Linked DNA regions of Homo sapiens. The protein of the gene in region 1 purifies or fractionates together with the protein of each later gene. This does not show direct contact. Each region holds a gene or a part of one and is shown in the gene's direction. Other genes may lie near its edges.

What was found.
Region 2: the proteins of SPIN1 (region 1) and SLBP purify together in Homo sapiens (affinity purification with mass spectrometry; one large-scale study listed by BioGRID and IntAct). This does not show direct contact.
Region 3: the proteins of SPIN1 (region 1) and DDX42 purify together in Homo sapiens (affinity purification with mass spectrometry, with the first as the bait; one large-scale study listed by BioGRID). This does not show direct contact.

Annotation. Positions count from the first base shown.
Region 1 is NC_000009.12:88,464,798-88,468,450, forward strand, and holds part of SPIN1 (spindlin-1), read left to right. Parts: intron 1-3,574; coding exon 3,575-3,653. UniProt on the Homo sapiens protein: Chromatin reader that specifically recognizes and binds histone H3 both trimethylated at 'Lys-4' and 'Lys-9' (H3K4me3K9me3) and is involved in piRNA-mediated retrotransposon silencing during spermatogenesis.
Region 2 is NC_000004.12:1,705,804-1,709,456, reverse strand, and holds part of SLBP (histone RNA hairpin-binding protein), read left to right. Parts: intron 1-3,653. UniProt on the Homo sapiens protein: RNA-binding protein involved in the histone pre-mRNA processing.
Region 3 is NC_000017.11:63,780,603-63,784,255, forward strand, and holds part of DDX42 (ATP-dependent RNA helicase DDX42), read left to right. Parts: intron 1-3,653. UniProt on the Homo sapiens protein: ATP-dependent RNA helicase that binds to partially double-stranded RNAs (dsRNAs) in order to unwind RNA secondary structures. Unwinding is promoted in the presence of single-strand binding proteins.

The DNA of each region.
Region 1 (3,653 bases):
AAGTGTACAGTTCAGTAGTGTGTTAAGTACATTCGCATTGTTGAAACAGATCTCCAGAACTACTTCATCTTACAAATCTGAAACTCTCTACCTATTAAACAAAACAACCTACCTTTCCTCCCATTCCCAGCCCCTGGCAACCACCATTCTACACTCTGTCTCTATGAATTTGACTATTCTAGATATCTCATAGAAGTGGAATCACACAGTATTTGTTTTGTGAGTAACTTATTTCACTTAGCATAATGTCCTCAAAGTTGGTTCATGTTGTAACGTGTGACAGGATTTCCTTTAAGGCTGAAAAGAACATTCCATTGTATCTATATACCACAGTTTGTTTATCTGTTCACCCATTAATGGACATTTGGATTGCTTCTACCTCTTGGTAGAATGTAAAATTGTACCATGTAAAATTGTGAATAGTGCTCCTGTAAACATGGATATGCAGATATTTCTTTGAGATCCTGCTTTCAGTTGTTTTGGATATAGGCACAGGAGTGGGATTGCTGGATCATATGGTAATTATAATTTTAATTTTAGTATCGTAATTCTAATTTCTTAGGTAGAACTACCATACTGTTTTCCACAGCAGTTGTACCATTTTCCAGTCCTACCTACAGTATACAAGGGTTCCAGTTCTCCATCCCTTAGTCAGCAGTTGCTATTTACTGTTTTTGTCATAGTGGTCATCCTGATGGGTGTGATACGATACCTCATTTTGTTTTGATTTGCATTTCTCTGATGATTAGTGATATTGAGCATCTTTTTATGTGCTTGTTGGCCACTTGTAAATCATCTTTGGGGAAATATCTACTCACATCCTTTGACCATTTTTTAATTAGGTTATTTTGATTTTTGTTGAGTTGTGAGAGTTCTTTATATGTTCTGGAGACATGAGTTTTAATGTAACAGTATGACAGATTTATTAATGGTTTCAGATTCTGCATTGTAACTAACCTTTAAGGAGCTAACTGTTGAATTCTGTGGTTTCATATAAGTATATCTAGAATTATCTGAAAGACGATTAGAATATTCTTTTCAGTATCATATCTTTGAGAGGCTGGATTTTATACCTGAACTGAAAGAGCAGATCATAACAGATTGAGTGCTAAAGCAGATATGAGAATCTACTTGTTCTTTTTAAAACCTAGACATTAGGAGATTTGCAAAAATGTAAAATTAAGCCACTCTTAATGTATTTTGATAGGAAATAGTTATTTTTAATTTAAAATGCATTGATATATAGGTATTTTTAAATAAATGTTTCTAGATTTGTTTTTCATTTTCTGAAGTAGTAAATATTGGTAGGCATTATCTATGTAAACAGATGCTTTTTTAGGTCTGTAGTAATTTCCATTTATGTTTTAATTTTTTTTTTAGAGACAGGATCTCGCTTTGTCACCCAGGCTGGAGTATAGTGGTGTGATCAGGGCTCACTGCTGTCTCAACACGTTGAGCTCAAACAGTCCTCCTGCCTCAGTCTCCTGAGTTGCTGGGACTACAGGCACTCACCACAGTACCCTGCTAATTTTTAACTTTTTGTAGAGATGAGATCTCATTATGTTGCCCAGGCTGGTCTCAAACTCCTGGCCTCAAGCAATCCTCCTGCCTGGGGCTCAAAGTGCTAGGATTATAGATGTGAGTCGCTGTGCCCAGCCAGTAATTTTTAAGAATGCACATGGAGTTCTGAGATCTAAGTCTGAGATCTACTGGCTTTAAGAAACTAGTGGGGTTTTTTTACTGTCATACACGGGGGGAATTCTGTGTAATTTTTTATTATTACTGCGTACTTAAAACCAGCCATACATGTTTAGGGTTTGCTGATAAAATTAAATAGCAATACATGTATCAAGAAAATCTCACTTTTTTGTTTCTTTTGATGTAACAGAAATAGAAGTTTGTTGAATGAGGAAAATAGGAGAGCTAATTGTTTGTTGTTGTTGTTTTTGTTGTTGTTAAGACAGGGCCTCACTCCCGTAGCCCAGGCTGGAGTGCAGTGGCGCCATCTTGTCTCACTGCAGCCTCGACCTCTGGGTTTAGGTGATTCACCACCTGAGCCTTCTCAGTAGCTGGGACTACAGGCCTGCACTGCCACACCTGGCTAATTTTTTGTATTTTTAGTAGAGACGGGGTTTTGTCATGTTGCCCAGGCTGGCCTCAAACTTCTGGGCTCAAGTGATTCGCCCGCCTTGGACTCCCAAAGTGCTAGGATTACAGGCGTGAGCCACCGTGCTTGTCTCTAATTGTTTGTTTGTTTGTTTGTTTGTTTTTTAAAGATAATTGTTTAAATTTGGTATAAAGACAGTTATCTAAAATTGTGGACTGGAGAAGTCTTAAAACCAATGGGATCCTTCATAGTTTTTCCAGTATTAAAAAGATGAAGGTGATAATTTTCACCACTTTTGAAAAATATTAAGGGCTAGGACCGTTAATCTATCATTTCAGAGACCTGAGCTCCCAACCACATGGGGTATCTGATTAAATCATACAAATACTGACCTGCTATGATCTAGGTATAAAACAAGAAAGGGAAGGTCTCTGCTTTCATGGGGATGTACAAGCAACTAACAAGTACACAAATAACATAAAGTGGGATAACTTTAGATCATGGTGAATGTTATTAAGAGGTAAAATTGGGTAATGTGACTGGGATTTGTGGGGCTACCTTGTTGGTCAGGAGAACTCCAAAAGGAACCGGCCTTCTGAAGGTATGGGGAAGAGCTTATCAGGCAGAGGAGAGTGTGTCCTAATGGGAGAGGAAGAAGAGCAGAGTAGAGAACGCATGAACAACAAGGAGGAAGATGGGAAACCTGAGGGCAGAGGCGTGAAGGCTTTTAGGGCTTGGGGGCTATGGTGAGCAGTTTGGTTGTTTTTCAAATTATAAAGGGAAGGCATGGGAACATTTTAGATCACACAATGTGGTATCAGTGACACAACGATTACTTTGGTTGCAGTGAAGAATAAGATTGTAGGAGCAAGAGAGTAAAAACCTATGCCTTAATAAAAAAATGGAAATAAGACTGAAGGAAAACAAACACCAATTTCTTTAAAAAAAAAAAACAAAAAAAAAACCCTCTGTGCCTTGAATAGCTTTTCTAAGTTTTAAATAAACGTTCTGTGGTTATGTAAGATGCTAATACAGGAGAAGCAAAGTGAACCGTATACAGGAACTCTACTATTTTTCCAGTTCTTCTGTAAGTCTGAAATTATCTCAAAATTTAACTGTTAAGTAAACAATAACAAACAGTATTTTATACCTTGAATGAACAATTAAAACTTTTGATTTGGGTACAGAACCAAGAGCAGATGAGTCCAGAAAAATAAAAAATCATATTTTTTTCAATTAACTGACTTGGGACAAAATACTTCTATTCTGTTGAATCCATCTCTGAGCTGGGGCCCAGTAGTTTGTCTTTGGTTTTTGTACTTTTTAAAGCTTTCCCAGATTCTGATGCTTGCTAATACGTTGCATGGACAAAATTTCAGGTGTAGCCTTCTTTAGTAAATTCAGTCTTCATAGTCGGTAATCAGCGAAACACTTTGTCAACTTTTTTTTTTTTTTTTTAATCCCCAGCGACATCTCGAATCAGCGATGCACACTTGGCAGACACAATGATTGGCAAAGCAGTGGAACATATGTTTGAGACAGAGGA
Region 2 (3,653 bases), on another chromosome or scaffold:
CACATTCCAGTGCTTTAAAGGAATGTCTTTCTTCTTGAACACTGTTTACAGATAAGAGAGCAGGTCTCGCTCTGAGCATGGGAACATGATGGCAATTAGGAGGCTTTCCTCCTCAGAGGCCTCTTGTGGCTTTTCACAACTTACTGTGCCATATTTTTATGGCCAGCTTATACAGGCACTCGATAAGCCTTTTTCCCAACACCCCATCTCTACTAAAAATACAAAATTAGTCGGGCATGGTGGCGCATGCCTGTAATCCCAGCTACTCGGGAGGTTGAGGCAGGAGAATCCCTTGAACCCAGGAGGTGGAGGTTGCGGTGAGCCGAGATCACGCCATTGCCTTCCAGCCTGGGCAATAAGAGTGAAACTGTCTCAAAAAAAAAAAAAAGACAAAAGACTTGGGTCTACGGGTGGGTACAGAAGAGGCCCTAGGTCCAGATATGAAGGGAAGGTAAACAAACCTTATTGAGATCAAGCTCTGAACTCTCCAGTGGTCTCATTTAGCTGAAGATAAAAATATTAAATCCTTACAGTGCTTTAGAAGTTATGGAAGTTTTTGGTGTCCTCATTCCTCAAACTATAGGAATGCTTCTGTCCTAGGGCCTTTGCACTTGGTATTTGCACATTGTGGATAATGCCTGGAGGCACCTGACAAATAGAGCCAGCTCGTTGATGGATAAGATCTAGAAGTACTCTTTGGAAGGTTGTTAGCTTAGTGTGTAAAATTAGGCTTTGTTGTCCCAAGATAGGGTAGATTATGAATATAACCTACTTAATCTAAGAAATGGACTTAAAGATACCAAAATATGGCATGTAGTATATGGTCATTCACATACACAGGCTTTAAATTATTCTTGTAGTTCAGGAATTTGTTATGTTGGCAGACCCAGACTTGAACCTCTTGATACACTAGTGAGGATGCTTGTATCCAATCCTGGACAAACCTCTATTGAGTCAATTTAATTTTCAGTTAATTACCTAATTTGATTTCATAACTTTCTACCATTTTTAGAATCTGGAAATTTACTTTTAGAAATCCAATTTAAGTTTATCTGAGTTGTGTGACTGTAAGGGAAGAAATGATAATTACATAAGAGGATTATTCATTTGTTACTGCAATTGCATTTTCAAAGCACAGCATTTGGTTTACAGCTAAAATAGGTTGCTTATTTGTTGTAATTAAAGTTAGTATCTAGTGTATTTTTTTGTGACGGGGCATAACTGTCAACCAGGCTGGAGTTCAGTGGTGTGATCTCACCTCACTGTAACCTCTGCCTTCCAAGTTCAAGCAGTTCTCCTGCTTCAGCCTCCAAGTAGCTGGGACTACAGGCATGCGCCACCACGCCCGCCTGATTTTTTTTTTTTTTTTTTCGTTTTTGAGATAGAGTCTTGCTCTGTCGCCCAGGCTGGAGTGCAGTGGCGCGATCTCAGCTCACTGCAACCTCTGCCTCCCGGGTTCAAGCAATTCTCCTGCCTCAGCCTCCTGAGTAGCTGAGATTACAGGTGCGCACCACCACGCCTGGCTAATTTTTGTATTTTTAGTAGAGACTAGATTTCACCATGTTTGTCAGGCTAGTCTCGAACTCCTGACTTAGTGATCAGCCTGCTTTAGCCTCCCAAAGTGCTGGGATTACAGGTGTGAGCCACTATGCCTATCCTAATTTTTGTATTTTTAGTAGAGGCAGGGTTTCATCATGTTGGCCAGGCTGGTCTCAAACTCCCGATCTTGTGATCCGCCCGCCTCAGCCTTCTAAAGTGCTGGGGTCACAGGCATGAGCCTGTGCACCCGGCCCAGTATCTAGTTTTAATGTCAGTAGTGATCAACAGAAAAATGGGGTAGAAAAATAAAAATGTGAGTTTATGTCTGATGTATAAATAAGATACATCAATTTGAACTGCCAGAATTTGGGGCTCGAAGCCTTAAGCTTTTGGATTTCCTGATTATTATTTTTTAAATTTTAATTATTATTTTTTTTAGATGGAATCTCGTTCTGTTGCCCAGGCTGGAGTGCAACCTCCACCTCCCAGGTTCAAGTGATTCTCCTGCCTTAGCCTCCCGAGTAGCTGGGATTATAGGCACCCACCACCACACCCAGCTGATTTTTGTATTTTTAGTAGAGACAGCGTTTCACCATGTTAGCCAGGCTGGTCTTGAACTCTTTTTTTTTTTTTTTTTTTTTTTTTTTTTTTTTTTTTTTTTTTTTTTTTTTTTTTTTTTTTTTTTTTTTTTTGAGACGGAGTCTCGCTCTGTCGCCCAGGCCGGACTGCGGACTGCAGTGGCGCAATCTCGGCTCACTGCAAGCTCCGCTTCCCGGGTTCACGCCATTCTCCTGCCTCAGCCTCCCCAGTAGCTGGGACTACAGGCGCCCGCCACCGCGCCCGGCTAATTTTTTGTATTTTTAGTAGAGACGGGGTTTCACCTTGTTAGCCAGGATGGTCTCGATCTCCTGACCTCATGATCCACCCGCCTCGGCCTCCCAAAGTGCTGGGATTACAGGCGTGAGCCACTGCGCCCGGCCTGGTCTTGAACTCTTGACCTCAGGTGATCTACCTACCTCGGCCTCCCAAAGTGCTGGGATTACAGGTGTGAGCCACCACGCCCGGACTATTATTTATTTATTCATTTATTTTTTGAGACGGGGTCTCTCTCCCCCAGGCTGGAGTGCAGTGCACGATCTCGGCTCACTGCAACTCCGCCTGGTGGATCACTGCAACTTCCACCTCCTGGGTCCAAGGGATTCTCCTGCCTCAGCCTCCCTAGTAGCTGGGATTACAGACACGCGCTGCCACGCCTAGCCAAGTTTTTGTATTTTGGTAGACGCTGGGTTTCACCATGTTGCCCTGGCTGGTCTGGAACTCCTGAGCCCAGGCAGTCTGCCAGCCTCAGCCTCCCGAGGTGCTAGGATTACAGGAGTGAGCCACTGCCTGGCCATAAATTTCCCAATATTGACTGAAGACTATCTTGAACTTGAGATGGAACTGAGCTCCTGGATGTGGTTTAACTCAAGCACAGGGGGTACTTTGCCAGTAGACGGAGTCCTGACACAGCAAGGACTCTGACATATACTCCTCCATACACATTGTAATCATAGTGTACATAACATTCTGAATTATTAATTACATGCGCCCGAAAGGTAAATGGATATGCTAGCTATTCTGTATTTTATTTATTTTCTGAGACGGAGTCTCTTGCTGAGGCTGGAGGAGCAGTGGTGCAATTTCGGCTCACTGCAACCTCCGTCTCTGGGGTTCAAGCAGTTCTCCTGCCTCAGCCTCCCTAGTAGCTGGGGCCTACTGGTGCGCACCACTGCACCTGGCTAATTTTTGTATTTTTATTAGAGATGGGGTTTCGCCATGTTAGCCAGGCTGGTCTCAAACTCCTTACCTTGGGTCATCCACCCGCCTCGGCGTCCCCAAAGTGCTGGGATTACAAGTATGAGCCACTGTCCTCTGCCACCATATATATTTTTTTGAGATATGGTCTTGCCCTGTTGCCCAGACTGGAGTGCAGTGCCAGGATCATGGCTCACACAGCCTTGACCTCCTGGGCTAGAGTGATCCTCCTGCCTGGGCCTCCTGTGTAGCTGGGACTACAGGCACGCCCCACCATGCTTGGGTATTTATTTATTTTGGAGATGACGTTCCAACCTTTT
Region 3 (3,653 bases), on another chromosome or scaffold:
GTTCCTTGGCCTTCCTAGAGTCAGTAATTGAGGGACAATGAGCTGTGTGTTCTAGATGAGCTAGGGAAAGGATCGCTTTTCCAACTTGCTAAGTCTTGAGAGCCAGTAAGCAACCCTCACCTGCCCAAGGTCTCACTGCCTGCCTGTTTGTGGCAGGAGTTGATTTGCTGCTTTTGTAATATGAACCTTTTGATTATTTAATAGGGCTGATTCATAGTCATGTTTGTTCTTTTCACTCCTTCCCTCTAGCTTTGGGGGAAGAGTGAGTTACTCCTGTTGTTAAAAGTTTTGATTGTGTCTGGTCTTCTCTGGAAATCCTATGACTTTTTTCTGTCATTTTGCATCTTCAGTTTTTCAGACTTTACTGGTTTTTCCCCTTTAGCATATAAACATGCCTATGTTTCTTTAAAAAATAAAATTTCTGTAGGTAATGCTTCACTTTCTCCTTCCTATCATTGATAAACAGCCTACAAAGTACTCTTGACTCCTCTTGACCTAGTCTTCATCTTCTACTACTTACTTGCCAGGTACTCCTCAACCCTGTCCCTACTGCTCCATTGAAACTGCTTTCACTGATGACTCCTGGTTGCCTATACAACAGAAGAATTTTAGTTCTTTTTGTTTTGTTTTTTTGAGACAGAGTCTCGCACTCTCGCCCAGGCTGGAGTGTAGTAGCCGGATCTTGGCTCACCGCAAGCTCTACCTCCCAGGTTCATGCCTTTCTCCTGCCTCAGCCTCCTGAGTAGCCGGAACTACAGGTGCCCGCCACCACGTCCGGCTAATTTTTTGTATTTTTAGTAGAGATGGGGTTTCACCGTGTTAGCCAGGATGGTCTTGATCTCCTGACCTTGTGATCCGCCTGCCTTGGCCTCCCAAAGTGCTGGGATTACAGGCGTGAGCCACCGTGCCTGGCACATTTTAGTTCTTAACTTACCTAACTTCTCTTTAGTTTTCTGCCTATAGAGCTTCTTTCTCCTCACCCGTGTTCCTCCTTGTCTCCCCTTCCTTCTTTCCCCCTCTTCTTTCTTTCCCTTCCCCAATCCCTGTTCCATCTGAAGTTTCCATGTAAGCTTCTCTTTTTCTGCCCATTCCTAAATAGTGATATATGTTAAGAATTGTCTTACTGGGCCGGATGTGGTGGCTCACGCCTGTAATCCTAGCACTTTGGGAGGCCGAGGCAGGTGGATCACGAGGCCAGGAGATCGAGACCATCCTGGCTAACATGGTGAAACCCCGTCTCTACTAAAAATACAAAAAATTAGCCGGGCCTGGTGGCAGGTGCCTGTAGTCCCAGCTACTGGGGAGGCTGAGGCAGGAGAATGGTGTGAACCCGGGAGGCAGAGCTTGCAGTGAGCCGAGATTGTGCCACTGCACTCCAGCCTGGGCGACAGAGTGAGACTCCGTCTCAAAAAATAAAAATAAAAAAAGAATTGTCTTACCAGCTGGGCGCAGTGGATCACGAGGTCAGGAGTTTGAGACCAGCCTGGCCAACATGGTGAAACCTGTCTCTACTAAAAATACAAAAATTAGCTGGGCACGGTGGTGCGTGCTTGTAATCCCAGCTACTCGGGAGGCTGAGGCAGGAGAATTGCTTGAACTCAGGAGGCGGAGGTTGCAGTGAGCCAAGATCATGCCATTGCCCTCCAGCTCTGGGCGACAGAGCAAGACTCCGTCTTGGGGAGAAAAGAAAGAATTGTCTTACTTCTTTTCTCACTCTGCATGGTCTCTCTGCTAGCTTATTTACATCAGTAACCTCAAATGCAAATGGCTTACATCAAATCTATAGCTCACTCCGGACCCCTCTCTGCAGTTACTGCCCCTGCTTGGCATCTCTACTCAGCTCTCTCATAGATACTGAACTCACCTTTTGCCTAATTTTGCAAACCTGGCTCTTTTAGGTTTCCATCTCCATTAGTGGCTCCACAGTTCACCCAGTCTTTAAAGCCAGAAACTTCTGAAGTTATTCTAGACTCTTCTTCCTTAGCTTCCACACCAATTACTGGTCACACAATCCTAATTGATCTTTCCTCAGATATCTAAATAAATAACTCAGATCCATCCCCCGTTTCTCCTTTCCCACAGGTGCTTTCTTAGTTCAGAATTTTGTCGCTTTATACCTGCGTTGCTGCAACAGCCTTCTACTTTCCTTGCCTCTACCATGAGTATCTCTCATTCTGTCTTTCAAAAACACTGATCTGAAAATTTCCCTTCTGTGTAAAATTAACGATTCTTTGTAGCTGGCAGAATACAGTTTTGTATGGTACGTCGTTAGCATAGCCTTCTAAGCTGTTCATCTTGGCCCTACCTGTCTTTCTGAACATGTGTCCTGCAAATTTCCCAAATGTGCTACTGAACTCTAGCTGCACTGAACTATTTCTTGTTCTCTGTGGTAACACTTAACAGATCCTTCCATCTGAAATGCCCTTCTTTAATGCCTCTTTGATCTAATGCCTCTTGAGGTTTCAAAATTTAACATGTCATCTCTCAGAACACTTCTATGCCTTTGCTCCCACTCATGGACCACCAGTGAATGCACTCTGTATAGTACGTCTGTTAGAACGCATCATGTTGTTTTCAGCTGCCTCAGACTGCACTGTCTACTCCTTGAGAACAGGGACTGTATCTTTCATGTATGAATGCCTAGCACATCATATACCACCTGACCTTCTCAGCAAGCTTTCAGTAAACCATTGAAAGTTTTCCTGCTAGGAGATTGTGTGATTCTTAAAATCCACCTGAACGTAAATGTCTTTCCACTATCCTTTCTTTGCCTTCTCATCCTTATGGCTTATTAGCTCCTTGTTATACATTGTATACACTAGGAAAAATGAGATTAAAATTGAGCCCATCCTTTTTGTTGCTTGGGAACACCTCTTGTAAAGATAGCTTATAGATTAGTTTAAAAACGTCAGATGCTGAAATTTTCTTGCTTGTAAAGATTCTTACTAAATTTCATCACACTGGAATTACGTTGATTCCTTGATTGAAGGAATCCCCTTATGGGATTCCGAAAGACAGCAGGAGATGAAGTTCAGGTAAATTAGTACTTACTAAATACATACCTTAGTCATTCTCACTGTTAGAGAAGGAAGTCCAAAATGAGTAAAGACAGTTTCTATCTGGAGTTAAGGGTCTAAGTAGAGATTGATGTAGTGTAATTCAAGTTTAATACTAAGCAGCCTGGGTGCCGTGGCTCACACCTGTAATCCCAGCACTTCGGGAGGCCAAGGTGGTTGGATTGATTGAGGTCGGGAGTACAAGACCAGCCTGCCTAACATAACGAAACCCCATCTCTACTAAAAATACAAAAAATTAGCTGAGCCTGGTGGCACACGCCTGTAATCCCAGCTACTCGGGAGGCTGAGACAGGATAATCACTTGAACCATGGAGGCAGAGGTTGCAGTGAGCTAAGATTGTACCACTGCACTCCAGCCTGGGAGGCAGAGTGAAACTCTGTCTCCCAAAAAAACAAACAGACAAACAAAAACCTTAAAACTAAGCAAACAACTAAGTGCTGTGTATAATAGCAGTTGAACAAAACCTATGAAGTATATATAGACAAGGGGTATAGAACAGTGCATGTTTCTGATCTCTTCGACAATGTTACTATAATAAACAGTTTTTGGAATTTTTTTCCACCCTGGCTTCAAAG